Linked DNA regions of Homo sapiens. The protein of the gene in region 6 purifies or fractionates together with the protein of the main gene of each other region. This does not show direct contact. Each region holds a gene or a part of one and is shown on either strand. Other genes may lie near its edges. The genes, in order: PREB, CMTM6, TBC1D9B, GNPTAB, CAV2, S1PR4 and TM9SF3.

Region 1 (5,014 bases), on a different chromosome or scaffold from region 6:
AACATGGTGAAACTCCATCTCTACTAAAAATACAAAAATTAGCTGGGTGTGGTGGCGGGTGCCTGTAGTTCCAGCTACTCAGGAGGCTGAGGCAGGAGAATCACTTCAACCTGGGAGGTGGAGGGTGCAGTGAGCTGAGATCAGGCCACTGCACTCCAGACTGGGCAACAGAGCGAGACTCCGTCTCAAAAAATAAAAAAGACCCTGGAGGGTGGTGTCAAAGGAAACGGAGAGGCCAGAAAGAGCAGGTGCCATGTATCCAAGGAGGACAAGGGACCCACAAGGCCTGGGGACTTGAGATATGCAGAGAGCTTGGCCAGGCCCTTCACACATCTAATTCAACTCTGTGGGACAGATATTGGCATCCCCAAAGATGAAGCCACTGCGCTATTCCTCTGGGTGCACCTTAGGTTAATGAGAATGCAGGAGAGGGCGTCTCTTTGCAGGGAAGGACATCCCTTGTGCTCGCTCTCAGGAGTGCACAAAGGTCCTCATCAGATCAGAAACCCGAGGGAGAATGGAGTGTCAGGCGCAGAAGATACCTGCCCGGGAGCCAAACTGCCCCCTCTGAGGCCAGCAAAGCAGCTGGCCACCCACCAAGCCACCAGCCCAGGAGTGTGAAGCCTTGAGAAAGGGAATGGCAGACACCACCCCTGCCAAAAGTGGGCGATAGGCGTTAAGGATGACAGACGTGTCCTCATACGAGGAAGCAATGGATTCAGCATTTGAAGTCAGGTTTATTTTTAAGTTCATGCTGCCTCCGTTAAGAAGCAAGAGACTCCGGTGGTTTCTGGTGTGTGCCCTCGGGCAAATCACTTCCTCTCTGAGGTAAGATGCAAAGGCCTGTGCTCCTAGGAGTTGGCATATCACTCCTCAGATGGGAACAGTCCTTATTTGAGGATTTTATGTGTGTGAGAGACAGGGTCTAGCTCTGTTGCCCAGGGGCTGGAGTGCAGTGGTGACATCACTGGTGGTCCAGCGCAGCCTCGACCTCCCAGTCTCAAGTGATCCTCCCGCCTGAGCCTCCTGGGCACCTGGGCCCACAGGTGCCACGATGTTTGGCTAATTTTTAAATATTTCGTAGGGACGGATCCCCATGTTGCCCAGGCTGTCTCGAAAGCCTGGGCTCAAGCCATCCTCCTCTCTCGGACTTTCCGAAAGTGTTGGGATTACAGGAGGATTACAGGCATGAACCACCGTGCCTGGCAGAGGATTTTTTTTTTTTTGAGACGGAGTTTCACTCTTGTTGCTTGTTGCCCAGGCTGAAGAGCAATGGCAATGGCGCGATCTCGGCTCACTGCAACCTCTACTTCCCAGGTTCAAGTGATTCTCCTGCCTCAGGCTCCCGAGTAGCTGGGATTACAGGCGCACGCCACCACGCCCTTTGTATTTTTGGTAGAGACGGGGTTTCTCCATGTTGGTCAGGCTGGTCTCGAACTCCTGATCCGCCCGCCTAGGACTCACAAAGTGCTGGGATTACAGGCGCGAGTCGGATTTCTTTATTAAAGGTTGACCTTCATCAACCTCCATTGGCTCCACCTCCTCCGCCCGCGCCCCGCGCCCCGCACAAAAATGGCGAAGTCGGTGCTGGGCGACTCTGCCTCCGCGCCAGGGGTGGAGAACCGAAGCCCCGCCCCGGGAAACGCGGCCCCGCGGCCGGCTAGTGCTGACGCGTGTCGGCGCTCCTGCGCCTGCGCGGAGGGAGCCGCGAGACAGGTGCGCATGCGCAGTGCGCGTCTGCGAGACCGACTTGGACGGAGCCGAGCTGAGGCTCGGCTTCCTGCTGATGGTCAGGGTTTTGGCAACTCCCCGGTGTGAGAGGGGTAGGGAGTGCTCCCGGCGGCGACGGGGCCGAGTTCACCAGCCGCCGGGGCAGTAGTCGAAGGCCCGGCGCGGCATGTCCTGGGTGCCGCGGTGCGGGCAGTGAACGCGCGCCGGGCGGGATGGGCCGGCGCCGGGCGCCAGAGCTGTACCGGGCTCCGTTCCCGTTGTACGCGCTTCAGGTCGACCCCAGCACTGGGCTGCTCATCGCTGCGGGCGGAGGAGGCGCCGCCAAGACAGGCATAAAGAATGGCGTGGTGAGAGCGCAGGGCCACTGGGGCTGGGTCTTGCTGCGGGCTGGCGGCGATTCCAGGGTGGCCGGGGGGTCGCGGGGCGGGCCACACTCCAGCTTCGGGCCCTGCCCACTTCTGTTGGGAAGACCCGCTTGCCTGACGCCCAGGGGCGAATTTCAGTCGAGAACTCAGCGGGCGGAGGAGAGGCTTTTAAGGTAAAGTGAAAACTGCACACAGCTGCAGAGTCGCCAGGAACGCTTCAGCTCCGCCTCAGAGCAGCTCCAGGGGTCTTATACTGGCCTTTTCCGGGAGGTCTTGCCTGCCCTCTAGCAGCGGCGAGAGTGGTGCATTTGGGTTTAGGCTAAGTTCCTTCCCTCTCCTGAGCTTCACCCTGTTCTGTAAAATAGAGGTAATAATCCCAGTCCTGCTCACTGTGTAGATTTGTGAGGCCCAAATGAGAGAAAAAAGACTCGAGAAACCCTTGTGAACTAGAACGTGCAGAAAGCAAAGGGGTAAGACATCAGACTCTTCCCTAAACGTGCTCTCTGGGCACCCCTGAACTTGCTCATCCGGGTTCCCCCTCCCACAGCACTTTCTGCAGCTAGAGCTGATTAATGGGCGCTTGAGTGCCTCCTTGCTGCACTCCCATGACACAGAGACACGGGCCACCATGAACTTGGCACTGGCTGGTGACATCCTTGCTGCAGGGCAGGATGCCCACTGTCAGCTCCTGCGCTTCCAGGCACATCAACAGCAGGGCAACAAGGCAGAGAAGGCCGGTGAGGAGCTCCCTCTCTACCCCCTTGGGGAAAGGGTTGAACGAGTAAGGTCACTCTTGGTGTCTCTAAAGAAGTGGGTCTGGAAGTAGGGTTTTGGTAGCAAGCTAGAAGTTGTATGGGCACCTGCCATGGAGAGAGGGGCCAGTACTCCTTACTGTAGAAGCCTGGAACCTGGCCAAGTGTTTGTGTTACAGGTTCCAAGGAGCAGGGGCCTCGACAAAGGAAGGGAGCAGCCCCAGCAGAGAAGAAATGTGGAGCGGAAACCCAGCACGAGGGGCTAGAACTCAGGGTAGAGAATTTGCAGGCGGTGCAGACAGACTTTAGCTCCGATCCACTGCAGAAAGTTGTGTGCTTCAACCACGATAATACCCTGCTTGCCACTGGAGGAACAGATGGCTACGTCCGTGTCTGGAAGGTGTGGGTTTGCAGGGTTAGGGAGGGTGAATGTCAGTAGCAACAGGATCAAAATTGTGAGAAGTTGAACGTGGCATCTGGGAAACTTGTGAATGAAGCTTGCATTGAGGGGCCATTAGAAGGGGTGGCGTGGGCATCAGTCACAGTGTACTTGCTGGACACCTGAGTTAACCATGGTGGTTGTTTGGCTACAGGTGCCCAGCCTGGAGAAGGTTCTGGAGTTCAAAGCCCACGAAGGGGAGATTGAAGACCTGGCTTTAGGGCCTGATGGCAAGGTGAGGGGCTGGGGGTGGGAGGAGGATGGAGAAAGGAGAGAGGAGGTGCTTATGCTGCTTGCCCAGTAAGTGGATCCCCTAACTGTCCATCCTTGGAATCTTTATTCCTAACTAGTTGGTAACCGTGGGCCGGGACCTTAAGGCCTCTGTGTGGCAGAAGGATCAGCTGGTGACACAGCTGCACTGGCAAGAAAATGGACCCACCTTTTCCAGCACACCTTACCGCTACCAGGCCTGCAGGTGTGAAGACTTTGGGTGGTGGCTGAAAGAGGCATAGCCCAGCTGTGGTGGGGGAGAGGGAAAAGACTGGGGATGGGAGAGCTGGGGAGGAACTTGTTGAGTGTTACCCCAGGTCTGACCAGGGTGCAGGTGGTGCACAAACCTCTGAGGAGGGTTGGGCAGGCCCTAGGAGCTGAATAGCCCCTCATCCGGCCCCCAGGTTTGGGCAGGTTCCAGACCAGCCTGCTGGCCTGCGACTCTTCACAGTGCAAATTCCCCACAAGCGCCTGCGCCAGCCCCCTCCCTGCTACCTCACAGCCTGGGATGGCTCCAACTTCTTGCCCCTTCGGACCAAGTCCTGTGGCCATGAAGTCGTCTCCTGCCTCGATGTCAGGTGTGAGACATTGCTGCCTTGGCTAGGTAGGGGGTCCCTGAGGGAGCTTGGAAAGGAGTCCTGCCTGGGTCCCTACGGACCGGTATTGGGGTATGAGGGTTGCTGCACAAGCCTCCAGGACAATGAGCTCTTTATTGTTTGTTGCAGTGAATCCGGCACCTTCCTAGGCCTGGGCACAGTCACTGGCTCTGTTGCCATCTACATAGCTTTCTCTCTCCAGGTAATGGGTGGAGGTTGGCATGGCCCTGTGGGTGGACTGTAGGCCTGTCTCTACCCTGAGTTTGCAGGAAGGAGTCTGGCCCATCCTATCGAGGGAAATCCTGGGGGTGGGGAACATGCTTTCCAGAAAGAGAGTTCCCAGCTAGGCCTTTCCTCACTGGTATTCCTTCTGCCCACAGTGCCTCTACTACGTGAGGGAGGCCCATGGCATTGTGGTGACGGATGTGGCCTTTCTACCTGAGAAGGGTCGTGGTCCAGAGCTCCTTGGGTCCCATGAAACTGCCCTGTTCTCTGTGGCTGTGGACAGTCGTTGCCAGCTGCATCTGTTGCCCTCACGGCGTGAGTCATTGGGGCAGGGCAGGCAGGCACCACCCCACGTTTAATGACCAGAAACGTGCCCCCCGGAGGCTGGGCTCTTTGTGCCACTCCTCCTTTGAAGGGTTCTGGTTTTCAGGCTGGGAAGCCCTTTTGCCCGCTGACCTCCTCCCTTTCCCTCCTGCAGGGAGTGTTCCTGTGTGGCTCCTGCTCCTGCTGTGTGTCGGGCTTATTATTGTGACCATCCTGCTGCTCCAGAGTGCCTTTCCAGGTTTCCTTTAGCTTCCCTGCTTCCTGGGAATCAGGAGCCTGGACACTGCCATCTCTAGAGCAGAGTGGAGGCCT
Region 2 (4,707 bases), on a different chromosome or scaffold from region 6:
CTTAATTTTGGATGAATTTCAAAGGAACTTTTAGACATCAGTAGTGTCTAATTTGGGATGATAGTGACTTGAAGAATAATGGGGCAATGAATCCTTGTAGCCCTGGTGAAAATACAGTGGCCTTCCTTGTTGGACAGAATTGGTGGCATCTTGGCCTTGGGAGGACATTCAGAGTGCATGTAATCAGAGACAGAAGGGTAGTTCTGGCTGGTTGTAGGTGGCCCCTGCAGGGCAGTATCTACTTGTCTCTATTCATTTGAATGGGAGCTTTTGTTTGTTACTGGAAGAAGAAAGGGAGGTTTGGGGCCACGGAGAAGATGTAGCAGCTGATGGCAGCAGAAACCCCTTCTCTCTTCCATGGGTTTTGAGACTCCAATGGAGAGATGAGTTAGAAGCTGACGTTTTCTGGGTTAGCGTTTAGCAGCAAGGTTTCGAGTCAGACTGCTTAGGCCTGCATTCCAGCTGCTCCTGGCTGTTTGACCTTGGATATGATTTCAGCCTCTTGGCCTCAGTTTTCTCATTTGAAAATGAATGTAACCGACTTTATACTGTCGAACCTACTTTATATTGTTGTGAACATCCTGTAACTCAATCAACTTCAGTTGCTAAAATATAATTACATTCCTTGACAAGTTCACACAAAATTAACATATGTGACTGTAGCAGTTGGTGACCAAGAAAGAGAAAAAGGAAATGATTTTGAAAAGTGAGCCTAAATGGAATTTCGGGAGACGCGGGAGGGAGCGATTCTGAAAGTCCTTACAGACAACTCATTGTACTTCAAATGAAATACGAATTCTTCCCTTGGTCTGCAAGGCCTCCACATTATCTGGCCTTTGCCTACATCTCCAACATCTCCTTTCCTCCCGTACTTATTCCTAGCGACACAGGCCTTTGGGCTTCAGATTGAGTCAAACTCATTTGGTCCTCGGGACATTTGCACTTTCGTGAAAGGCTCTCCCCAGAACTTTACAAGCCTGGCTTCTCACACTTTGAGTCTCATTCAATTCAAAGATCATGGTCCTCAGAGAGGCCTTTCCTGACCACTCAGTTTAGTAGTGGCCATTTAAGTAGAGCACCCAATTCTCCATCCTTTTTTCCTTCTCCTTCCTCTTCTCCTCCTCCTCCATCTTCTTTTTTTTTTTAATAAATTTATCAAGCCACCAGAAATGCTGAATCCATTATTTTCGTATCATATTTTCACGTCACTTATCACTATCTGAAATTGCTATCCATCTGTTTTCTTGTTTATTGTCTGTCTCTGTTACTAGGGATCCTGTGATTTTGGGTAGTACTTGGCTGTCACCCAAGTACCTAGAACGGGGTTCACTGCACACCGAAAGTACGCAAAAATACTAAGTGAATGAATGTCAGGAGGATGAAAGATGGAGGGAGGTGAGAAATCCATCAAAGGCTCACAGAAAGAACTCAATTCTTGGATGAAAGTCGGAAGAATCCCAACAGCTAACAAGCAAATTTGCTGAGAGGGGGCGGGGCGGGCCAAGGGCGGGGGCGGGAAGGGGCGGAGTCAGGCGGAAGCCGGGGAGAAGGCCCAGGAAGTGACGGCCGCCTCCCGGCTACCGGGGACTTCTGGAGTCCGAGAAGTCAACGGCGCGGTTGCTGCGGCCGCCGCGCTCCCCGGCCCGAGGCGATGGAGAACGGAGCGGTGTACAGCCCCACTACGGAGGAGGACCCGGGCCCCGCCAGAGGCCCCCGGAGCGGCCTCGCTGCCTACTTTTTCATGGGCCGGCTCCCATTGCTCCGGCGCGTTCTCAAGGGCTTGCAGCTGGTGAGTCCGCGGTCAGGGAGGGCGAGCCCGGGCTGGGGAGCGGGGTCTGGCCCGGGCTTGGGAGGCCGCCGAGCTCCTTCGTTTCAGCTTGGTTGTTCAGTAAAAGGAGGTTTCCACACCTCTAGTTCCTTCCCTCTCAGCCTGGGGAAGGGGGCGTTACCCTCCGCCCTTCCGCCGGGCGGCCCCTCAGTCCCAAGGCTCTCCCCATCGGGATCCCACGAACTGGGGCCACCCAGCCTGTTAGGCGGGCTCAGGAAATGCGTCGGAGACCCAAGTCAGCCACTTCAACATCTTTCACTCATCCTCTATGGCGACTTTCCTCTCTTCTCTCTGCTGCTACCCTGCATTATCGCCCACAGTGCCTGTATTTAGACTGTGAAGCGCTGTTTATCTTTCTCTGGCTCTTGCGGTTTTCCTGCTGCGAGCCCATGGGGGCAGTTTAACTTGCTGGACAAAGTCCTGCGATACCACGCGTGGCATTGAGATGTGTGTGTATGTGTGTCCGGTAAATTGTCTTCTAAAAGTTTTATATTGACTGGAAAAGAATTATTTCAAAATTGAGCAATATGGGTTCTAAGTGGAAAGTCAAAAGGACAGCTTTTTGTAAGTATGTGCGGATAGCTGAACTAGGACATGGTATGCATCTTTCCATTTTATTGAGTTTATTTTAAGCAGTTGAAGTACCATAAACCTGTTCGTGAAAACATCAAAGCATCTTTGAGATTTAAATTATTCACTTTACAGTCGTGTTGGCTCCTATGTACTGTTCCAACCACTGATGGTTGAACCAGTTTAGGAAAAATAGAAACAGTTTAGGTTCTATTTCTGCAATAGAACCAGTTTAGGAAAAATCCGAATGCTTATGATGTTTATGAGTTTTGTCTTACTTTGTTTTGTTTTTTAACCATTCTAAGTAAAAATTAGCTCATTGGTTTCCTTGGAAAGAACTTAAATTCTTACAACTCAAATGACCCGAAGTTAAATTCTTAGAACTCTAGTGACCTACTTTTATTGAATAGAAAAACAGAAGTCGGAAAATCGGCACTGCTGTTTAGCGATCAAAATGATCACATCTGCTGATGACTGGGAAATCATTTGAAAGCAAGTGATAATGTGGCCTATGGAACCCAGTAGGATCTGGCCTTATCTTTCTCCCAGTCTCCCTCTAGGTGGTTCCACACTGGCCACCTTTAATTTATTACGAGGCATCAGGGGCTCTTTCCTGCCACTGTTCCTTTGCATAAGCTGTTCCTTCTACCTTCTTCCTTCTTCCTTCTCTTCTCTTGTCAGCTGTCACATGATGATTTTTAGGTATTAGCTGTATTTCTCTGCAGTAAAGCTAAAATTTTCTACGTGAATAGTAGAACTCTTTAGAACAGAAAAGAATATTCATCTGAAGCTTTTTTTTTTTTTTTTTTTGAGACCGAGTCTTGCTCTATCGCCAAGGCTGGGGGCAGTGGCGCAATCTCGGCTCACTGAAACCTCCGCCTCCCGGGTTCAGGCAATTCTCGTGCCGAGTAGTTGGGACTACAGGCACGCACCTCCATGCCCGGCTGATTTTTTTTTTTTTTTTTGGTAGAGACGGGGTTTCGCCGTGTTGACCAGCCTGGTCTCAAACTCCTGACTTCAGGTGATTTTCGCCCTCCGGGCCTCCCAAAGTGCTGGGATTACAGGCGTAAGCCACTGCGCCCAGCCCATCTGAAGCATTCTTGCTGCTCGAAAAAAATCATCTGTATTGGTTTGCTGCCCACAAAATCTCCTGTTTTCAGTTGCCTTTATTATTTTCTTTCTAATAAAAAGTGGCAAAGCTAAAGTAAATTTTCTGATTACCTTCTTATAGTTTAGTAAACTGTAGTTTCGTATCTTTGGAATAGAACATAACCAGTTTCCTTCCTTATTGCTGTTATAGAAGAAAACATGGAACACAACCAGAAATTTTTGTGGTAAATGTTATACTTGGACACAGAGAAGATGAATTTGCCTTAAAAGATCGTTAGACTATTATTAGTTCTCCATCATTCATAAGAAGAAATGGAGAAAAAATAAAAACTAATATCTCTTTATGAAATCCATTTATTTGTTTATGGGGAAATTGTCATGTTACAGGAATGCTTTCTTTAATGTGGAGATTTAAAAGTACTTTTTCATTACTGCCTTTCACTTTGATGGTTGTCTTTTTGTTCCTTTGTTTGTTTTGATAATGTCTTATCTCTTCACAGTAACAGTATATTACAGGAATTATCCAGCAAGTCCCAAGAAGGTTACATATGAAGTCGGTAAAAGTTGTCTTCCAGCCTGGGGCTATAGGCAAGGTCTTTGCCTTAACTCAAATTCTTCCTTTAGATAGATTGGTTGTTTTACTTTAAATGTTTAATTTTTTTAAAAAACTAAACAGAATTGCGAGCTCCAGTAAGGAAACAACTGTAATGGAGAAACCCGTAATCAGAAGAGGAGGTGTTTTAACAAGGGACCTGCAAACCCTGTGAAATTTTATTCAAAATATTGTACACTTATATGTTTGAGTATATTATTCTGGACCCATAAATCTTAACAGAATCTCAAAGATCCTACAAGAGAAAAGCCTGCTCTAAAACTTAAAAACCAGACATTGTGTATATACTTAGGAAATTCTTACATTAGAGTCTTCGGAGGTTGAATTGAATTACCTCTGAGGTTCTTTGCACTCTTAAGGTTTTTTTTTTTTTTTCAAACCTCTGAGGCTCCATGGGGTTTGCTATTACAGAACTGAATTGAATATTGAAGGGATAGAGAGTGGAGCCTGTACACAGAGGAGATTAGAGATAAAAGAACGTAACTTCTCTATCTCTTGAAGTTAACATAGCTGTGTCTGCCATTTAGATATGACCTAAGTTTTGTTAAAACCCTAAGCATCCCCCAACTACCATCCACCCTTCCAG
Region 3 (4,276 bases), on a different chromosome or scaffold from region 6:
GTGCAGAGCCCTGGCCTCAGACCGCATGTGGCCCCCAGGAAGCAGGGCCTCCATTCCAGGGTGAGTTGCCTGAGCCCAGAGAGGTGTGCCCTTCACTGCCACCAGACAGCCAGCGAGAGCAGCTCAGAACTGGGGTGCTGCCGACCTGCCTGAGGTGCCCCCACCAGCCACACTGCCTTTGGGGAACAGCTCCAGGAGAGCTGGTCGGCTGCTTCTCTCCCCAGGTGCATGTTCCCACGCAGGGAGTATAGTGCGCGCCAGTTCCGGCAAATGTCCTCCCCGAAACGCTGCACCAAGCACAGGAGCTGTGCACAGACCACCCCTCAGTAACAGGCACAGCAGGCGCGGGTGGAAGGGGTCATTAGGGTTCCCCTGAGTTCTAGCAGGAACATTCCCCAGAGTTCTAGCAGGAACTATAGAATTCGTTAGTCCTCAGACTGGTCTATAGCCCTCATCATTGTTCACGTCAAAACCAGCATGTTGAGACTTGTATTCATTTGAAAAAAGGAATTGAGGGTTTGGCGGCCTTTATTTTAACCTGACCAAGTGAGGGAATGCTCAGGCCCTTTTGCTCTGGTGCCATAGGGCGGGGCTGGGCGGGCCAGGCAGGAGGTGTGGCATGGGAGACCTGCTCCCCAGGGCCTGGCCTGGGGCTGGCTGTACAGAAACACAGACTACATCTCAAGGACCCCAGGAGCTTGCAGTCCCAACAGCAGAATGTTATTCATGTTCTTTTTATTTTTGCGTTTGTCCAGAAGCACTACCACAGGAAGAGCAAGAAGGAAGTGGAAGTGAGGAGAGAGGAGGTACAGGCCATTCTCTGCCGCTGTTCTTAGAGACCCCAGCGTTGAGGCACCCTTGCTTGCTGGTCTTTTCCCCAGTCACTGCCAGGGAGCCCCCTACCCCGGGAGATGGCGGATGCGTCCCCCGATCAGGGAGCAGGCCTCGGGATGCACAGGAGGCTCCACGCTCTCCACCAGCCCCACGGGCACCCAGCCAGCCCTCTCTTGCCAGCTTCTCTCCAGCTGCCCTGTGACTCCCCATCTGAGAGAAGACATTGTGGATCATTGTCATCAGCTTAGGTCCAACCACTGCAGCAATTTAGGGAAAACCTGTGGCTGTTCTGGGTTTTTTTCCCATGACCACCTTCCCAAACGCCAGGGTGTTTTATGATAGGGCCCTGGTAACTCCATGCCAGAAAACACCCAACTCTTCCTCTCCCTGCTGTCAGCCCGCAGCCGTCTCACATGACAAAGATTAATCTCTTTCCTCCTAACCTGCAGAGGAGAAGGGGACCAGCTCTCCGGACTATCGGCACTACCTTCGAATGTGGGCCAAGGAGAAAGAGGCTCAGAAGGAGACGATTAAGGATCTTCCCAAGATGAACCAGGTAGGCTCCACTGGAGCCCACAGTAGACATTTCTGGAGAGTTCTGACCAAGACTGGGCCCTAACATCACCGCACCTGCACTGCAGCATCTCCTGGTGGGTGGGAAGGCTCCTCCCTGCCTCTAGAGCCCGTTAGTCCTGGTTGCCAGTCAGCGATGATTCCAGAAAGACAAGAGGCCAGTTGCTCCAGGGCCTTGTATAGGGGCATGTTTCCAGATTGAGTGAGTGTCTGTGAACCAGGAGCCAGAGGCTTGTAGGCTACCTTTGACAAGATATGCGTTCCACACCCTGCACCCTCCCAGCCCTGCCCAGGGCTCTGCACACGCAGGCTCACATGCATCCTCCACACCCGCTCTTCATTCACTGGTCTCGCAGATCAGAAGCATGGTGTCTTGCCAAGGGTCTCAAAGCCAGAAAATGGGAGACCCCAGCTCCAAACTGCAAGCGTTGAGCCAAAGGCAAGTCTGGAGCACCAGCCTGACCATGGCCCTCGGGCCAGACCCACGGTCTAGCTGTGCCCAGTAGGGGACCCTGCAATCTGACCACTCCCCCAGCAGGCCTGGAGGGTGGGCACCACGTGCGATGAGGATTCTTCCCATTCTTGGGCCAGGAGGCCTAGACGTGTGGCTTCAGGACCTAGCACCCACCCTCCCCAGCACCCCCCTCCCCAGGATCCCCCTCCCCAGCTGACCCAGGCTGTATTTTCCTCACCATCACCTTCTAAAGAGCTTCATTCAAGGGCTGAGTTGAGGCTGCTTCTGATTAAAACCAAAGGTGATTCTAAAACACAACGAAGTCCTTGTACTGACTGGATTTAGAGTCGTGGTAGAAATCCATCTCCCTGTGCCAACAGAACGGACCTAGAAACAGGGAGGCCCCAGGTCAGACCAGCATGCTCTGAGTGCCAAGAGAAAGGCAGCTGGAGGGGAAAGCCTTTTGAAGAGCTGTGTGGCCTCTCTGAGCCTGTGTCCTGATCTGTGAGATGGGACTGATGAGGCTCATGGAGATGATTAGCAAGACGGCAGCCAACATCCTTAGGCTGGTGCTTGTCATCAGTTTGGCTAATATGGACCCCGTCTGACTGGTCTTTTACCATCTCCCTGTTCTTCTGTTTTTCTCCCTAAAAGGAGCAGTTCATTGAGCTGTGCAAGACGCTTTACAACATGTTCAGTGAAGACCCCATGGAGCAGGACCTGTACCACGCCATCGCCACCGTGGCCAGCCTCCTGCTCCGCATCGGAGAGGTGGGGAAGAAGTTCTCAGCCCGCACAGGCAGGAAGCCCAGGGACTGTGCCACTGAGGAGGACGAGCCACCAGCACCCGAACTGCATCAGGACGCAGCCAGGGAGCTTCAGCCCCCAGCTGCAGGAGACCCCCAAGCCAAAGCAGGCGGAGACACACACCTCGGAAAAGCCCCACAGGAGAGCCAGGTGGTGGTGGAGGGGGGCAGCGGCGAGGGACAGGGCTCACCCTCCCAGCTGCTGTCTGACGATGAAACCAAAGACGACATGTCCATGTCCTCCTACTCGGTGGTCAGCACGGGCTCCCTGCAATGTGAAGACCTTGCAGACGACACGGTGCTGGTGGGCGGGGAGGCCTGCAGCCCCACAGCGCGCATCGGCGGCACCGTCGACACCGACTGGTGCATCTCCTTTGAGCAGATCCTGGCCTCCATCCTGACGGAGTCCGTGCTGGTGAACTTCTTTGAGAAGAGAGTGGACATTGGACTCAAGATCAAGGACCAAAAGAAAGTGGAGAGACAGTTCAGCACCGCCAGTGACCATGAGCAGCCTGGAGTTTCCGGCTGATGCCTGCAGCTGTGAGGCCTGGCCCAAGGTGTCATCAGTGGGGCTGGCCTCATCTCCTCCTGCCTTTCCTCCCTTATCAGTTTCTCTTTAAAGGTGTGCCCCTCCTGCTCTCCCAGGAGCAGTGAGTTGTGAGTGGAAAGAAGGCTGGTGCAGACCCAGCTGCCTTAGACAGATTCCCTGGGCCTGCATCTCCTGGCGCCGGCTGCTTCTGGGCCCAGGAAGAGGCTGTGGCTCCCACCTTCCTTACACCTGGTGGGAGCCCGCCTCGCACCAGCTGCACCTGCCTAGCATTACAGGCTCTCAGATCTGCCCTTGCTTGCCTCATACCTCTGTGCTCCACACTGCGGCCAGGCCAGCTGAGTCCCTCCATCCGTGGATGCTTTCCTGCAGCTATGTGGTATGGGGGTCATTCCTGCCTCTTGGCACCAGGTTGGGGGGCATGTGCTTGTTGGGCACCAAAGTGATGGAACCCTCAGGTGCTCTCCGGGAGCCTGAACCTCCTGACTGAGGAACATGGGCAGAACATGTTTATTGCACAGAGTGGGCGCTGCGCACAGGCGTGGCTGTACACGTGCTCTCAGCTCATCATCCTTTCCAGTAACTTTAAAAAAACATCCCTCAGGTCCTGATATATTTCCTTGGATTCATTTCACTTGGCTAGAAATTACACTGTGCTCAATGCCTTAATAAATCCCTGAAAGAAATAAAAACCACTGTGTGCAATGCCTTGCTGTGGCCCCCAACCACTGCTTAGGCCTCCCAACTTCTCCCCAGGCCAAGTATGGGGCCCTGGCTGTGTTCTGGAAGTTCAAGACACTTAGTCCTCCACAGTGGGTGGAAGAGTGCAAGGTCTGCCAGGTCAGATGGAGACGCAGAACCTGCTGGTGCAAGCTGGGCAGGTCCTGACCAACCTGCATCAGGGGATGCCCTGAGCTCCACAGGTCTTCATGGGCAGGGGTTGTGGGTCCTGGTGAAGGAAGTGCATCCTCAGGCCTGGGCTGTAGCAAGCTGTCTGCCCTTGGGTTCAAGAACCAGACTGTGGAGCCAAAGGTGACCGCAGGGGGCCCCAGGGCTGGAGCC
Region 4 (3,757 bases), on a different chromosome or scaffold from region 6:
CTTCCTCTCTTTCACGCTTCCTTGAGTGAGCACAGTGTCTTCAGACATCCCACGGTTCCGTTGTGTTGTCCCACTCACACCAGTAGCTCCCATTTATCTTTCTTTCAATCGCTAGGAGTTCTCCCTCCTCTCTCCTCCTTCCTCCTCTCCTTGTCAGCCCCTCTACACCTGGGCTTTCCTCTGCATGCATGTACACACGCAGCCTCCTTGAGGTGAGTGTCCAGAAGTCGGAGGGAGATTTGTGAGGTAAAGAGAAAGGGATAAGAGAGTCCTCATTAGGCTATTCACATATCAAATACTCTGAAGAAAAAGGATTGAAGGAGGGGAATGGGCATCTTTACCAACCTGACTTGGGTGTGGCAAGTGACTTGGCCTCTGCCTCCAATCAAGGTGACTATTGAGTGGAGCTTTTCTAGCTGTCACTCAAATGAAACGTACACCAAGTTGACTTATACCAAGAAGGACAAGCACCTAAGTACTGAGAGCTTCAGGATAAATGAATGGGCTTCTTGCTGTAAATGGAAGGAAATTCAGGAAACAGAGACTGGGCAGGTGAACAGGACAGCAACTTAACCTTCATCTGCTTTCCAGGGATTGTACATCTTGTTCTTGATGTCTGTTACCATTGTTCCTGGCAGGTAAAAGTCTTATGAAAAATCTCAGAAAGGCTGTACCTGCTTTTAGAACAGGGTCCAGTGAGAAACCTTTGAGTCTGCTGTGCTGACCTAGGATGGGGAAGGAAAGGAGCCCTGACTCAAAGGAGCAGCCATTAATGGAAAGGAAGAGGAGTGTCAGTCTTTCCTCTATCTATACCAGTAGAGAATAGGGAACTAGAGAGGCAGTCTTTCCTCTATCTATACCAGTCTATCTATACCAGTAGAGAATAGGGAACTAGAGAGGCAGGAAGAGGGAAGGGAAGGGCAGGTTAAATCCCAACACTCTGCTCTCTACTGGAGTCAAACTCCTTCCTCCTGCCATACCTGCCACCTTCACAAACAAAGCAGCCAATGCTGCCTCTTCCTCCCCTCCCAAATTCCAGCTCATCATTCAAACCGTGGTGTCTTATGTTTGGGCAAAGCCCTGCCTCCTCCTACAGATGAAGGAATAAGCCATCATATCAACCCAGAGACAGTGTCTTATGGCTAAATAGAGCCAGTTTCCTTCAATAGAAAGACTTGACAAATGGACATCTTGAAAATAAATATGCTTTGGTAATAGCTGTGTAAAAATCTGTAGTTGTAGGTCTTAGAAAAATGAAGCATGGGCCGAAATAATTTTAATCCTCTTGGGTCTCTTTGTGGGCACATATCTAGGCATACTGTCCCTACAAAGCTAAACAAAACTAATATTTGTTTTTGTTTTGGAAGAGGAATGATGGAGATTTGTTTGTTGTCTTTTTAATGTATAAGATTGTGGAAATGATTAAGGTCATATGGCTCTTAGAAAGTTTGATGCACTTATATTCTTTCATCAACGTGAGAATTAAAATGTATTTTCTGTCTTTCATCATTTAGTTAATTGCACTTAAGCGGAAGATATTTCCCAGAAGGAGGATACACAAAGAAGCTAGTCCCAATCGAATCAGAGTATAGAAGATCTTCATTTGAAAACCATCTACCTCAGCATTTACTGAGCATTTTAAAACTCAGCTTCACAGAGATGTCTTTGTGATGTGATGCTTAGCAGTTTGGCCCGAAGAAGGAAAATATCCAGTACCATGCTGTTTTGTGGCATGAATATAGCCCACTGACCAGGAATTATTTAACCAACCCACTGAAAACTTGTGTGTTGAGCAGCTCTGAACTGATTTTACTTTTAAAGAATTTGCTCATGGACCTGTCATCCTTTTTATAAAAAGGCTCACTGACAAGAGACAGCTGTTAATTTCCCACAGCAATCATTGCAGACTAACTTTATTAGGAGAAGCCTATGCCAGCTGGGAGTGATTGCTAAGAGGCTCCAGTCTTTGCATTCCAAAGCCTTTTGCTAAAGTTTTGCACTTTTTTTTTTTCATTTCCCATTTTTAAGTAGTTACTAAGTTAACTAGTTATTCTTGCTTCTGAGTATAACGAATTGGGATGTCTAAACCTATTTTTATAGATGTTATTTAAATAATGCAGCAATATCACCTCTTATTGACAATACCTAAATTATGAGTTTTATTAATATTTAAGACTGTAAATGGTCTTAAACCACTAACTACTGAAGAGCTCAATGATTGACATCTGAAATGCTTTGTAATTATTGACTTCAGCCCCTAAGAATGCTATGATTTCACGTGCAGGTCTAATTTCAAAGGGCTAGAGTTAGTACTACTTACCAGATGTAATTATGTTTTGGAAATGTACATATTCAAACAGAAGTGCCTCATTTTAGAAATGAGTAGTGCTGATGGCACTGGCACATTACAGTGGTGTCTTGTTTAATACTCATTGGTATATTCCAGTAGCTATCTCTCTCAGTTGGTTTTTGATAGAACAGAGGCCAGCAAACTTTCTTTGTAAAAGGCTGGTTAGTAAATTATTGCAGGCCACCTGTGTCTTTGTCATACATTCTTCTTGCTGTTGTTTAGTTTGTTTTTTTTCAAACAACCCTCTAAAAATGTAAAAACCATGTTTAGCTTGCAGCTGTACAAAAACTGCCCACCAGCCAGATGTGACCCTCAGGCCATCATTTGCCAATCACTGAGAATTAGTTTTTGTTGTTGTTGTTGTTGTTGTTTTTGAGACAGAGTCTCTCTCTGTTGCCCAGGCTGGAGTGCAGTGGCGCAATCTCAGCTCACTGCAACCTCCGCCTCCCGGGTTCAAGCAGTTCTGTCTCAGCCTTCTGAGTAGCTGGGACTACAGGTGCATGCCACCACACCCTGCTAATTTTTGTATTTTTAGTAGAGACGGGGGTTCCACCATATTGGTCAGGCTTATCTTGAACTCCTGACCTCAGGTGATCCACCTGCCTCTGCCTCCCAAAGTGCTGAGATTACAGGCATAAGCCAGTGCACCCAGCCGAGAATTAGTATTTTTATGTATGGTTAAACCTTGGCGTCTAGCCATATTTTATGTCATAATACAATGGATTTGTGAAGAGCAGATTCCATGAGTAACTCTGACAGGTATTTTAGATCATGATCTCAACAATATTCTTCCAAAATGGCATACATCTTTTGTACAAAGAACTTGAAATGTAAATACTGTGTTTGTGCTGTAAGAGTTGTGTATTTCAAAAACTGAAATCTCATAAAAAGTTAAATTTTTGTCTGACACTTTGATTTTTAAATCTTTGAGGATTGAGTTTACTGTTACTCAGATTCAGCAGTCACTTGAGTGCCTTTACTGTGTATCAGGTTCTGTGCTGAACATTACTAAAATTAAGTGGAAAGTAAGGAAAGATTAGTATTATACAGAAGAATGTTGCTTTATGGGGGGAAAATAGTTTCTAAATGGAATTTATCATATGGTAAAATTTAGGATATCTGGGTATCATTATAAAAGCTGAGATTTATTCTAGAAAAGTTAGAGAAATGAACATTTGTCTGTAATGACGATTTCTGTGGTTAGATGAATATAGTCCATACCTAATTAGGAGCTTGATAATGGGATGGATAATACAATCATAGGCTATTCATAGACTCATTCTAATGATTCTGTGATTCAGTAGAATCATTAGAACAGAGGAACCTCAGAAGTTGATGAGCAGTCAGATGGTCAGAACCATTTGTTCAAATCCTATAGAAAAGGTCACTCTGTGTTTTAGTTTTTTT
Region 5 (3,928 bases), on a different chromosome or scaffold from region 6:
TATTTTTGGACTGGACAGCTAGGTTGGTTTTCATATACATAGCCAAGTTTTCATCCTGCTGAAGTCACAGAAAACAATGAGATAGGAAGCTCCTGAGAGACCATTTAGTTCAATTCTTTCATTAACGATAAGAAAACTGAGAACCCAAGATTAAACCCTTTGCATGAAGGGATACACCTCAATAACGGCAATGCTGAGACTGGAATCCAGTTGCCTGACTTCTAGGGCAGGGCTTTTTTCACTACACTCCAACAACTTTCCAAGAGAGGCATCAAAATAAATTAATGGGATGTGGATGACTATCAAAAAGATGAATTTTTAAAAGTTCCTGAAAACTATAAAGAACATTTTAAAAAGCCAAGCACCTGCTTTATTATTATAGGTTGGTCGTTTTTCCAGATGAACTGACAAGAAAATGTATGCCAACATCAGCAACTACTCTTCACATACTCACTTTCCAAAAATAATTTTGGACTCTAGTCTAGCTTCATGGTACAGGTATCCAAGTGCCTGTGATTTATATTGTTACTTTCTTATTTTAAAAATTGGAAACAAATTTCAGTTTATTTAGGATTAGCAAGAAGAGACTATAAAAAAGAAGAAGTATGGTGGGTGTGTGAACAGGCTATTTTATACTATTCATCAAATGATAGAACATTTATATGGAACCTCTTTAAGTGCTGGAAAACAAAGAATTCAACTACTAATGTAATAATTTTTAAAAATACATTCCCAAATAAGCAATAACTAATGTATTTATTATCTATTTTGAGTTTTTAATAAGGTAAAAATAAGTATGAAAGATTCCATATTTACTGTAATAAAAGCAATACACACATTTGTAGGCTTTTAGAAAATTTATTATGAATTCCGAGAAGTCTGCTCATCATATACCTCCCCCAGCCCCAAATAAAACAAACAACATGTTTGTACATAAAGCCTGGATTTACTTGGTACAAAATTTGAGTCTTTGAAAAAAATAGTTAATGGAAAATCTCAATAAAAATTCATTTTGAAAGTAACCAGTACTGTTCAGAAATAAGGAAGTCATGTTACTTGAGAAGTCAAACAGTTTTATTACAGAACTATGTGTATATATTTTGGGTTTAAAACTTGCCAATAGCTGTTTGAAAGGATAGCTCATAATTTATTCAAATAGATATTTTATTAATCAAATGTTTTTGGTTTATCAACATAACCAAATGTATAAAAAATGTTTTTAAATACAAGACATAACTATAAAGTCATGAGGCTGATTGACCTTTTAAACTAACATAATAAAATCTATATGGTCAAAATGAGTGGTGATGCTTTAAGGTAATGATTATGCGTCCCATCTAAGGATGCTGCAATGGCCTAGGGCAGTTTTGAAATGTCTCTTTGCAACTACCTTCAAAAGGATATGAGCTTCATAATTTAATCATTCATTTGATTTGGTCCCCAATATTATTCCAGTTCAATCATCATTTATATTCACCAGTCCTGGCGATTTTGAAAAATCTTATTAATCTTATTTGTCACTTATTAGCGTATTCAAAGGAATGTCAATTGAGGTTCTGATGGTAATTCTGAAATTTAAGCATTTACACACTTTTAAGATGTGTAAATTTTAGTAACTACTCACATTATAGACTTGTTTTTGGTATATGTCTATCATTTTGAAATAATGAGATTTTTCTTTTTTCTTTTTTTCTTTTTTTCTTTTTTTTTTTGAGACAGACTCTTGCTCTGTTGCCAGGCGGGAGTGCAGTGGCATGATTTTGGCTCACTGCAACCTCTGCCTCCCAGGTTCAAGCAATTCTCCTGCCTCAGCCTCCCAGGTAGCTGGGACTACAGGTGCATGCCACCATGCCCAACTAATTTTTTTGTATTTTTAGTAGAGACGGGGTATCACCATGTTGGCCAGGATGGTCTTGATCTCCTGACCTCATGATCCACCCGCCTTGGCCTCCCAAAGTGCTGGGATTACAGGGGTGAGCCACCATGCCCGGCCCAGAAATAATGAGATTTTTCAAAGCAACAGTGATTCATCACACTGAAATAGGACTCTACAGTTCAAAATGACAAGAATAACTTTATCCTGTGTTACATACCAATATTAGAGAAATCTTAAAAGTTTGTAGCTGTTAGTTTTTAGTTTATGCATGTAGTTCAGTAGCCCAAGTTGACAACTCCCCTGTCTCTCTACATGAATCACTGTAGTTGAAATTGTACTAAAGTATCAGAAGTAACATTTACTGTAAAATGTTAAATAGCACCAATATTACTTGAAAGTAAAGTGAGACATTAATAGGAATGCTGACACAGATTTAATTTCTAACTACTAGAGAGAAAGCATCTCCTAGACAAAATACTATTTAGATATGAATTATTTTAAGATCACAGCCAGAAAAATGTCATAAAACATTTTAGATTTTGCTTGGAAAAGTTAGAAAAGAAAGCTTTGTGTATCGCTCTTTTATCTTTTATTTCCAAAGAAGATGTACAAATGCTTACATAATCAGAACAGTGCAATCTTACCAATGAAGTTTACCTTGTGGGAGCTACATTTACTTATTTCATATATTAGTTCAACAACATAAATATAATAAAAATGCTTTTAAGCAATCTGATTAGAGCAACATTTATATTAACTACAAAATATACAGTAAAATGAAACATCTTGTTAAATAGGCCTGTAGGAAAACAATATTTTAAAGGAATACATTTTCATGAATCTACTTTCATATTTATTTGTTTTATTGTATCTTATAGTTACTATAATCGTTGTGTGCTTTTGTTACTGCAATTTCCAGGATCATTGTATATTCTCAGTATGCCAGTGACTATATATGTAAAGGTAATTTAAAAAGTATTACTCCCAGAGTAAAAACAGACAAACAAATAAGAAATCTCATTTTTAATGGGAAGTTGTGCATAAAACTATTGTAGTATTTTTATAGAAATGTCCCTTAATCATTATAAGTTCATCATTATAAAATGTATACTATTGTACTAAAGCAAAACTGTCTGCCTTTAAATCTAAGTGGTGTCAACTTACTGTATAATTCTGGTTACAAAGTTAGATATGAAATCTTTGGCTATTAATTAGAAAAGCATTATTTGAAAAGACCTGTCAATAAACATTTCTAAATGTGGTTGCTCATCTTAATAGTTTTCTTAATTAGAACAGCTAGGAAATGAACAGAACAGTGGTGCTTTTATGTTATAATAACAAAGAAGTATTACAGTATCCCAATCTCCAGACCTGGGGTCCAAGTATTCAATCCTGGCTCAGTTGCAGGCTGACAGAAGAGAAGCATCGTCCTACGCTCGTACACAATGGAGCAATGATAACATCTGTCACACTCTTCCATATTGTCTGCACTGAAGGCAGAACCATTAGGCAGGTCTTTACAAAAGGCATTAAAATCCTGGAAGGAAGGAAGAGAGATGTGTGAGGATTGTTGCTGTTACCAAATAAGGTCTGTCTTGTACATGTATGAAAAGATAAAATACTGACCCATTTACTTAAATTTGGTTGAGAGTTTGAAACAAATAAATGAACAATGATCACTGATAATGATTTGGGTTTTTTGTCCCCCTGACTCTCATTTTGAAATGTAGTCCCCAGTGTTGGAGGTGGGGCCGAGTGGGGATAATTGGATCACAGCGGGTAGATCCCTCATGAATGTCTTAGTGCCTGCCACCCTCTTGGTAACGTGAGTTCTCACTCAGTTAGTTTGCTTGAGATCTGATTAACTAAAAGAGTCTGGGACCTCCACATTCTCTCTCTTGCTCCCTTTCTTGCCATGTGACGTGCCTGCTCCTCCTTCTCCTTCCACTATAAGTGGAAGCTTCCTGAGGTCCTTGCCTAAAGTAGATGCTGGCACTGTGCTTCCTGTACAGCCCGCAGAACTGTGAGCAAAAATAAACCTCTTTTCTTTAT
Region 6 (4,076 bases):
GGACAAGGCTGAGCCTCTCCGCTCAGACCCCAGGGTAAGGTCATGCCTCCCCTCTCAGAACCTAGGGCAAGGCCAACCCTCCCCCCTCAGACCCCAGGCAGGTCCAAGCTTCCCCCTCAGACGCCAGGGCAGAGCCTGCCTCCCTCCTCAGACGCCAGAGCAGGGTGTGTCTCCCACTTAGACCCACAGCCACCTCACCTCAGGCTGAGTCACCGTGAGCCGTTGTCAGCAGGGCCATGGGGATGGGGTGAGCAAGTCCCTACTTTTCCTATGCACCTCAATCCCAGTGGGGGGCTGCCCCAGGGGGCCAGCAGCTCTGCTCCCAGCAGGGTGAGCTCAGGGGCAGGAGAGGCAACCATGAATCCCAAAATGGGCGCCTGGCCCCGAGACCCTACCAGCTTGTCCCTGGGGGTCTCTCTCCCTGGACCTGTGTGTCCTCCCATGGGCAGAAAGTTGGCCTCAGGCCGCCTTTGTGGGCCTCAGTTTTCCCTTCTGTAACGCATCAGGCTCTCTGGGCCTCAGTTTCCCCTTCTGCAACGCATCGGGCTCTCTGGGCCTCAGTTTCCCCTTCTGCAACGCATCGGGCTCTCTGGGCCTCAGTTTCCCCTTCTGCAACGCATCGGGCTCTCTGGGCCTCAGTTTCCCCTTCTGCAACGCCTCGGGCTCTCTGGGCCTCAGTTTCCCCTTCTGCAACGCATCGGGCTCTCTGGGCCTCAGTTTCCCCTTCTGCAACGCCTCGGGCTCTCTGGGCCTCAGTTTCCCCTTCTGCAACGCCTCGGGCTCTCTGGGCCTCAGTTTCCCCTTCTGCAACGCATCGGGCTCTCTGGGCCTCAGTTTCCCCTTCTGCAACGCATCGGGCTCTCTGGGCCTCAGTTTCCCCTTCTGCAACGCATCGGGCTCTCTGGGCCTCAGTTTCCCCTTCTGCAACGCCTCGGGCTCTCTGGGCCTCAGTTTCCCCTTCTGCAACGCCTCGGGCTCTCTGGGCCTCAGTTTCCCCTTCTGCAACGCATCGGGCTCTCTGGGCCTCAGTTTCCCCTTCTGCAACGCATCGGGCTCTCTGGGCCTCAGTTTCCCCTTCTGCAACGCACCGGGCTCTCTGGGCCTCAGTTTCCTCTTCTGTAACGCATCAGGCCCTGTTTCGGGGATCAAGTCGGATGAGTCAGTGCTCAAGGGCATGCAGGCACTTGACATTTATTAGGCACCTGCTGTGTGCTGAGCGCCGGTGGAGCATGTGGGGAGACCTCAGTGGAGCCGACGGGTGCTTCGGGGGTGATCAGGGCTGGTGGGGAGGAGTCGTCCGGCTGGAAAGGGGTGGCCCATCCCGAGTGGGGACTCATTTCCCCTCCGTGACTGACGGCTCCGGGGCTCCCTGCGGGTCTCCGGCTTTCGAGGACAGGAAGAAGGCAGCCAGGGCAGGGGTGGGGGTCCTCACAGCCAGGGCAGCCCCAGCGCGTTGGCTCCAGGAGCCCGGGTGGGGGCCGACCGTTGGGGTGCCCCTCCCTGTCCTCGGCCTTACCTCCACCCTGGAGGGCACCTTGAACATAACAGGAAATTTCAAATAACAGGAAACCAAGACCAGCAAGGCGGGTGGCTCCACCCTGCGTCGGGCCTCAGTCAGCCCCCGGGGGAGGCCATGAACGCCACGGGGACCCCGGTGGCCCCCGAGTCCTGCCAACAGCTGGCGGCCGGCGGGCACAGCCGGCTCATTGTTCTGCACTACAACCACTCGGGCCGGCTGGCCGGGCGCGGGGGGCCGGAGGATGGCGGCCTGGGGGCCCTGCGGGGGCTGTCGGTGGCCGCCAGCTGCCTGGTGGTGCTGGAGAACTTGCTGGTGCTGGCGGCCATCACCAGCCACATGCGGTCGCGACGCTGGGTCTACTATTGCCTGGTGAACATCACGCTGAGTGACCTGCTCACGGGCGCGGCCTACCTGGCCAACGTGCTGCTGTCGGGGGCCCGCACCTTCCGTCTGGCGCCCGCCCAGTGGTTCCTACGGGAGGGCCTGCTCTTCACCGCCCTGGCCGCCTCCACCTTCAGCCTGCTCTTCACTGCAGGGGAGCGCTTTGCCACCATGGTGCGGCCGGTGGCCGAGAGCGGGGCCACCAAGACCAGCCGCGTCTACGGCTTCATCGGCCTCTGCTGGCTGCTGGCCGCGCTGCTGGGGATGCTGCCTTTGCTGGGCTGGAACTGCCTGTGCGCCTTTGACCGCTGCTCCAGCCTTCTGCCCCTCTACTCCAAGCGCTACATCCTCTTCTGCCTGGTGATCTTCGCCGGCGTCCTGGCCACCATCATGGGCCTCTATGGGGCCATCTTCCGCCTGGTGCAGGCCAGCGGGCAGAAGGCCCCACGCCCAGCGGCCCGCCGCAAGGCCCGCCGCCTGCTGAAGACGGTGCTGATGATCCTGCTGGCCTTCCTGGTGTGCTGGGGCCCACTCTTCGGGCTGCTGCTGGCCGACGTCTTTGGCTCCAACCTCTGGGCCCAGGAGTACCTGCGGGGCATGGACTGGATCCTGGCCCTGGCCGTCCTCAACTCGGCGGTCAACCCCATCATCTACTCCTTCCGCAGCAGGGAGGTGTGCAGAGCCGTGCTCAGCTTCCTCTGCTGCGGGTGTCTCCGGCTGGGCATGCGAGGGCCCGGGGACTGCCTGGCCCGGGCCGTCGAGGCTCACTCCGGAGCTTCCACCACCGACAGCTCTCTGAGGCCAAGGGACAGCTTTCGCGGCTCCCGCTCGCTCAGCTTTCGGATGCGGGAGCCCCTGTCCAGCATCTCCAGCGTGCGGAGCATCTGAAGTTGCAGTCTTGCGTGTGGATGGTGCAGCCACCGGGTGCGTGCCAGGCAGGCCCTCCTGGGGTACAGGAAGCTGTGTGCACGCAGCCTCGCCTGTATGGGGAGCAGGGAACGGGACAGGCCCCCATGGTCTTCCCGGTGGCCTCTCGGGGCTTCTGACGCCAAATGGGCTTCCCATGGTCACCCTGGACAAGGAGGCAACCACCCCACCTCCCCGTAGGAGCAGAGAGCACCCTGGTGTGGGGGCGAGTGGGTTCCCCACAACCCCGCTTCTGTGTGATTCTGGGGAAGTCCCGGCCCCTCTCTGGGCCTCAGTAGGGCTCCCAGGCTGCAAGGGGTGGACTGTGGGATGCATGCCCTGGCAACATTGAAGTTCGATCATGGTACGTGATGTTGCGGCCTCTTATTCCCTGGTGCGTGCATGCGTGGGGGCCGTGGCTCAGGGGGGCTGTGGATCTAGGGGCAGCCGGGTGTGTCTTTGCTAGAGAGGGCCACGGGCCAGTGCCCTGTGAGGGTGGAGTGTGTGTGTGTGTGTGTGTGTGTGTGTGTGTGTGTGGACAACCTCTGGGCGTTGCGGGAAGTGGGGGTGACAATGACAGTTAATGCCGCCTCTTCTTGTTCACTTCCCCTTTAGAAATGGCAGGGCCCATGCCCCATCTCTGGCCTCTGCATCTTTTGGGGACCCACTCTCTGGGGCTGGCAGAGGCACCACCTTGGCTTCCTGGGCTGGGGGAATCTTCCCTCACATCCCCTTCAGCATGAACGGCCTCGGCTTTCCCGGTGGGTAAAACAGTTTAATCACTGAAGCCGAAGCACAGGGTTGATTGTACACGCTCCCCGCCAGCCACAGGGGCTGACAACTGCCTGCCCCGTGAAACTCCAGTGGAGACGTTTCAGCTCCACACCATTCAGTATGGGAGACGCCAGCCCCACGGGGCTACGGTGCAAGCAGATAACTGAATTTCGAAGTGTAGGTTGTGTTTAATTTGAATCTGTTTATATTTCGGTAGCCCCATGGGGCGGGTGGCCACAGTTTCAGTGCAGATGTAAATCCGGAAGCCTCCAGCACCTGCAGCTCATAGACAGCTCTCGCCCACCTTCTCCCAGGACCAAGCCAGTCCCGTCCAGTCCAGTGTCTGAGCAGAGTCAGAATCCACACCACCCGCCGCCTGGGCTCAGAAAGTTCTGCTTTAAGTCATTATTTCTCCACTGTACGATGGGGAATGCGGTGTGTGGGGGCCATTTACCCACCAACACAGCAGCTGTGAGGCACACACGGCTATTGAAAA
Region 7 (4,276 bases), on a different chromosome or scaffold from region 6:
GAAGAAGGTGGGGTGGAGTCACAGAAGCACAGCAGTGTATCAGGGGATCCCTAAGCACGATAATAATCCCTTTCATCTGAGGCTTCCCTGGGAAACGGCCAAGTGAGAGGAGGCCAATTCAGGCTACCGGCATTCTTCACCTACTTATTTTCCAGCTCTCAGAAGAATCTCACTGCTACACTTACGTCATCCACGCTGGCCAAAACGGTTTATGATATTGTCTTCCTCCCCTTTTCTGCTTCATCTTTGTGTGTGTGTGTGTGTGTGAGACGGAGTCTTGCTCTGTCGCCCAGGCTGCAGTGCAGTGGTGCAATCTCGGCTCACTGAAAGCTCCGCCTCCCAGGTTCACGCCATTCTCCCGCCTCAGCCTCCTGAGTAACTAGGACTACAGGCGCCCACCACCACACCCGGCTAATTTTTTGTATTTTTTAGTAGAGACGGGGTTTCACCATGTTAGCCAGGACGGTCTCGATCTCCTGACCTCGTGATCCACCCGCCTCGGCCTCCCAAAGTGCTGGGATTACAGGCGTGAGCCACTGCGCCTGGCCCCACTTCATCTTCTTTCGTCATTCCACCAAATTTAGAATGCCCTCCTTTTCTCCACTTAGCCAAACTCTAATAATCCTTCCGAAATGCTCAAATCCTCCTTTTTCAAATCCTCAAGTAAAGCCTTAACTCACCAAACCCTAACATGACATGATCTCACCATTTTTGTAATAATAACATCAGTAGCTAACAATAAATACATACTATGAGCTAGGTATAGTTCTAAGGTCTTTATATGAACACTTAAATAATCATCTCAAAATTCTATAAAATAGGTCCTATTACTTCCCCATTTTACAGACTAAAAACAAAAACAAAACTAAAGAACAGAGATGTTAAGTAATTTGTCCAAATCAATCAGCATCAAGTTTAAAAGGTTAGTATTTTTGCTAATCCCTAGTCAGCTTCATTCATTAAAGAGCAAAAAACTAAATCAAGGAAATATGAAAACAGTGCCAGGTGTACAAAGCAACTAAAGACAGTCCTGAACACTGAATAACTTTTCTATGTGAGCCTTTAATCTGCCTGAAAGAAAAAAAACCTTCTAAGAAGCTATTTGCACTCTAATCTCAAAAGGAATGACCTTTATTCTCAAGAAGTCACCAATGTTGGGCCCCTCTTATTTAAATACTGTTTATGTGTTGGGGGGGTACCAAAGTTTTCCTCCTTGACAGAGGTAATGAATTAATTATTATCAGGAGAAACGCTTTAGAAGATAATATGCTGACGTGGTCATGTGAAATCTGAATAAGAAATCACAATTTACATAGATGAGCAAAGGACTGAGGGTTCAGAACAAGCACCCAAATGCTATCCTTCATTTTCATACAAAGGGGGAAAAATATATGTGTTTACTTCAAAATAATGTTCCAGAAATCATAATTTCAAAACCTTTAAATTATTAAAACACACATCAGAATTCTAATACAAATAAATTAGAAATGTAATTTTGAATAGTCTCTTGAGATAACTACTCTCTCTCAAAAATAGCTTTGTACCTAAATAAACTTTCAGTCTATCATTGAGTAGAGCTGAAAATAGGACAACGAATTACGGCATTTAACAATCTACATTAGATAACTCACAAATTCACTTATAGTAAACAGCTTATACTCTTTATAAGTTTTCAGTAAGTTTTAAGAGTTCCTATACTCCCAACAGAGACAAAGACAAAAGGTTTCCATTTGCCAAAGTAAATCAAACAAAACATTTCTGAAATCACTCCGTGATATAATACAAATTATTTATGAGGCAGAGGCTGAGTAAACGATTCTAGTAGGCATCCAGTCTGTCCAACATTAGAAGTCTCAAGATTACCAGAAGTACACTGGGCCACAGAGAAATAGGGAATTTTAGCCTAGGTAGGACCCCCAAATCAAAACAGAAGACTATGCATCTTAAAGGAATAACGGCCTCAGTTTGTTCATTGTGCTTCCACACTGCATATCCTTGTCACTAGTAGCTCCCTAATTATTCAAGTCATTCAACAAGCACTCATCAAGTACTATTTGTGCCAAGCACAGTGCTTGCGTATATAACAGACCAAAAAAAAAAAAATCTGACTTTGTGATCTTGTTAAGGAAACAGAACCCATAAAAATTCAAGGCTACAGTGCAAACTATAAAATGCTCTAAGATTCCTGTGCCCCTAAGTACTGGGTTTTTGCTGCTAACATCTTTACATATTATAACTATGGAATTACATGTAAAAGACAGGTAGAAAAGACAAGACTGGCGATCAGGAAGCTCTGATTCTTTCTGTGGCCTTGAGCAAGTCTCTGAACCTGTACAGGCCATTAGGAAAATGAAGAGTTTTGGATTAAATTATTGAGTCTTTCTAGTTCTAAAATTCTATGATTCTCAATCTGAAATTGTTTTTAATGGAGTCCTTCGGAATCTTAGGAGACATAGTAATCTAACTCTAGATGCTTCCAAGTGCTTTGAGTTTTAGAAAACCAAATAAGCATAAACATACCTTTCACTGACTATAAAGAAGCCTATGTCCCTTCAATCAGTTATTAAAAGCCTGTCTTCCACAAAAGTGTTAATTTTCATTTCAAACAACATGTCTGTAATGCATATGATTCAACTTTTAAAAATTAAAAGGAACACATTTTTACATATTCTAGATATGTACATACAGTCAATAGCACATTTCCTTTTCAACACTCTTCAGAGAATATTAAAATAACTTTGGACAAATAAGCACATAAAATATATACATATATACCATAGGGTCAGGCGCAGTGGCTCACACCTATAATCCCAGCACTTTGGGAGGCCGAGGCAGGCGGATCACCTGATATCAGGAGTTCAAGACCAGCTGACCAACATGGAGAAACCCTGTCTCAACTAAAAAAATACAAAATTAGTCAGGCACGGTAGCACATGCCTGTAATCCCAGCTACTCAGGAGGCTGAGACAGGAGAATCGTTTGAACCCGGGAGGCGGAAGTTGCAGTGAGCCGAGATCACGCCATTGCACTCCAGCCTGGGCAACAAGAGTGAAACATAGTCTCAAAAAAAAAAAAAGAAAAAAAAGAAAGAAAGAAAGAAAAAGAAAAAAAAATACCATATGGGTCAGATGGCCACCTGAATCCTAATTCAGTAGGTACAGTAAGAGATATCAGGGGCTTTGGGGAATGGGCATAAGGTATTGTCCCTTCTTAGGACAAGCTATATAATTTGTGCGACCCAGTACAGAAAAATACAGAGCCCCTTGTTAAAAAATTTAAAACTTCAAGATGTTACAGGATAGCATGAAAACAAGCTCTCACACAGTCTTTTGTGACTATTCAGGGCACGTGCCCATGAAGTCAACACTATTGCTCCTTAATGCTAACCCAAAGATCTCAGAAACAACTCATCATGGAGCCACACTCATTCGAGCATTTAAGCATTTAAGCACTTAAAAATCAATATAGAGAACCACTCAATACCTAGTGCTTTACTGTCTTATTTTTAGGATAAAGGGGAATAGAGCATATGGCGGCTCACAGTGCAGAAGACTATCAACTCAGAATGCCTAAGTTCAAATCCCACCTCTACCCCTACCAGATGTGTGTTATCTGCAGGTGACCTCACCTCTCTAGATTCACTTTCCTCATCTACAAAATGGGCATATTACTCACCTCGTAGGTTATTAATAGATGAGTTAATAAGTGTAAAATACTTAGAACAGTGCATAGCCAGCAGGGCATGGTGGCTCACACCTGTAATCCCAGCACTTTGGGAGGCCGAGGCAGGCAGATCACCTGAGGTCAGGAGTTCAAGACCAGCCTGGCCAACATGGTGAAACCTCGTCTCTACTAAAAATACACAAATTAGCCAGGCATGGTGGCAAGCACCTGTAATCACAGCTACTAGGGAGGCTGAGGCAGGAGAATTGCTTGAACCCAGGAGGCAGAGATTGCAGTGAGTGGACATTGTGCCACTGTACTCCAGCCTGGGTGACAAGAGCAAAACTATGCCTCAAAAAAACAAAACAAAACAAACAAAAAAAAACAGTGCATAGCCCATTTTACTACAAAAGACATACTAGGTATTATCTGGAAACAATCTTCACAGGCAATTAACCTAAAAGGCCAGCTTCAGCTTCTAAAAGTTATTGTTTGATAATTCAATTCTACATGTATTTACTAAACACCTACTCAGCAACTTCCCCACACCAATGTCTCCTCTTCCTTTAGTATTATTCTCTCTTTACTAGCTACTTCTGCTTCTTTGACAGAA

What was found.
Region 1: the proteins of S1PR4 (region 6) and PREB purify together in Homo sapiens (affinity purification with mass spectrometry; one large-scale study listed by BioGRID and IntAct). This does not show direct contact.
Region 2: the proteins of S1PR4 (region 6) and CMTM6 purify together in Homo sapiens (affinity purification with mass spectrometry; one large-scale study listed by BioGRID and IntAct). This does not show direct contact.
Region 3: the proteins of S1PR4 (region 6) and TBC1D9B purify together in Homo sapiens (affinity purification with mass spectrometry; one large-scale study listed by BioGRID and IntAct). This does not show direct contact.
Region 4: the proteins of S1PR4 (region 6) and GNPTAB purify together in Homo sapiens (affinity purification with mass spectrometry; one large-scale study listed by BioGRID and IntAct). This does not show direct contact.
Region 5: the proteins of S1PR4 (region 6) and CAV2 purify together in Homo sapiens (affinity purification with mass spectrometry; one large-scale study listed by BioGRID and IntAct). This does not show direct contact.
Region 7: the proteins of S1PR4 (region 6) and TM9SF3 purify together in Homo sapiens (affinity purification with mass spectrometry; one large-scale study listed by BioGRID and IntAct). This does not show direct contact.

What each region holds. Positions count from the first base shown.
Region 1 is NC_000002.12:27,131,351-27,136,364, reverse strand, and holds the start of PREB (guanine nucleotide-exchange factor SEC12), read left to right. Parts: upstream 1-1,728; 5' UTR 1,729-1,943; coding exon 1,944-2,078; intron 2,079-2,643; coding exon 2,644-2,833; intron 2,834-3,027; coding exon 3,028-3,248; intron 3,249-3,441; coding exon 3,442-3,522; intron 3,523-3,637; coding exon 3,638-3,762; intron 3,763-3,961; coding exon 3,962-4,135; exon of another isoform or gene 4,136-4,161; intron 4,162-4,282; coding exon 4,283-4,355; intron 4,356-4,533; coding exon 4,534-4,693; intron 4,694-4,856; coding exon 4,857-4,951; 3' UTR 4,952-5,014.
Region 2 is NC_000003.12:32,499,690-32,504,396, reverse strand, and holds the start of CMTM6 (CKLF-like MARVEL transmembrane domain-containing protein 6), read left to right. Parts: upstream 1-1,544; 5' UTR 1,545-1,651; coding exon 1,652-1,789; intron 1,790-4,707. UniProt on the Homo sapiens protein: Master regulator of recycling and plasma membrane expression of PD-L1/CD274, an immune inhibitory ligand critical for immune tolerance to self and antitumor immunity.
Region 3 is NC_000005.10:179,862,368-179,866,643, reverse strand, and holds part of TBC1D9B (TBC1 domain family member 9B), read left to right. Parts: intron 1-755; coding exon 756-806; intron 807-1,283; coding exon 1,284-1,390; intron 1,391-2,515; coding exon 2,516-3,196; 3' UTR 3,197-4,276. UniProt on the Homo sapiens protein: May act as a GTPase-activating protein for Rab family protein(s).
Region 4 is NC_000012.12:101,744,999-101,748,755, reverse strand, and holds the end of GNPTAB (N-acetylglucosamine-1-phosphotransferase subunits alpha/beta precursor), read left to right. Parts: intron 1-1,514; coding exon 1,515-1,592; 3' UTR 1,593-3,257; downstream 3,258-3,757. UniProt on the Homo sapiens protein: Catalyzes the formation of mannose 6-phosphate (M6P) markers on high mannose type oligosaccharides in the Golgi apparatus.
Region 5 is NC_000007.14:116,505,456-116,509,383, reverse strand, and holds the end of CAV2 (caveolin-2), read right to left. Parts: intron 3,414-3,928; coding exon 3,263-3,413; coding exon of another isoform or gene 3,225-3,262; 3' UTR 843-3,224; downstream 1-842. UniProt on the Homo sapiens protein: May act as a scaffolding protein within caveolar membranes. Interacts directly with G-protein alpha subunits and can functionally regulate their activity.
Region 6 is NC_000019.10:3,177,160-3,181,235, forward strand, and holds S1PR4 (sphingosine 1-phosphate receptor 4 precursor), read left to right. Parts: upstream 1-1,609; 5' UTR 1,610-1,633; coding exon 1,634-2,788; 3' UTR 2,789-3,173; downstream 3,174-4,076. UniProt on the Homo sapiens protein: Receptor for the lysosphingolipid sphingosine 1-phosphate (S1P). S1P is a bioactive lysophospholipid that elicits diverse physiological effect on most types of cells and tissues. May be involved in cell migration processes that are specific for lymphocytes.
Region 7 is NC_000010.11:96,580,018-96,584,293, forward strand, and holds part of TM9SF3 (transmembrane 9 superfamily member 3 precursor), read right to left. Parts: intron 1-4,276.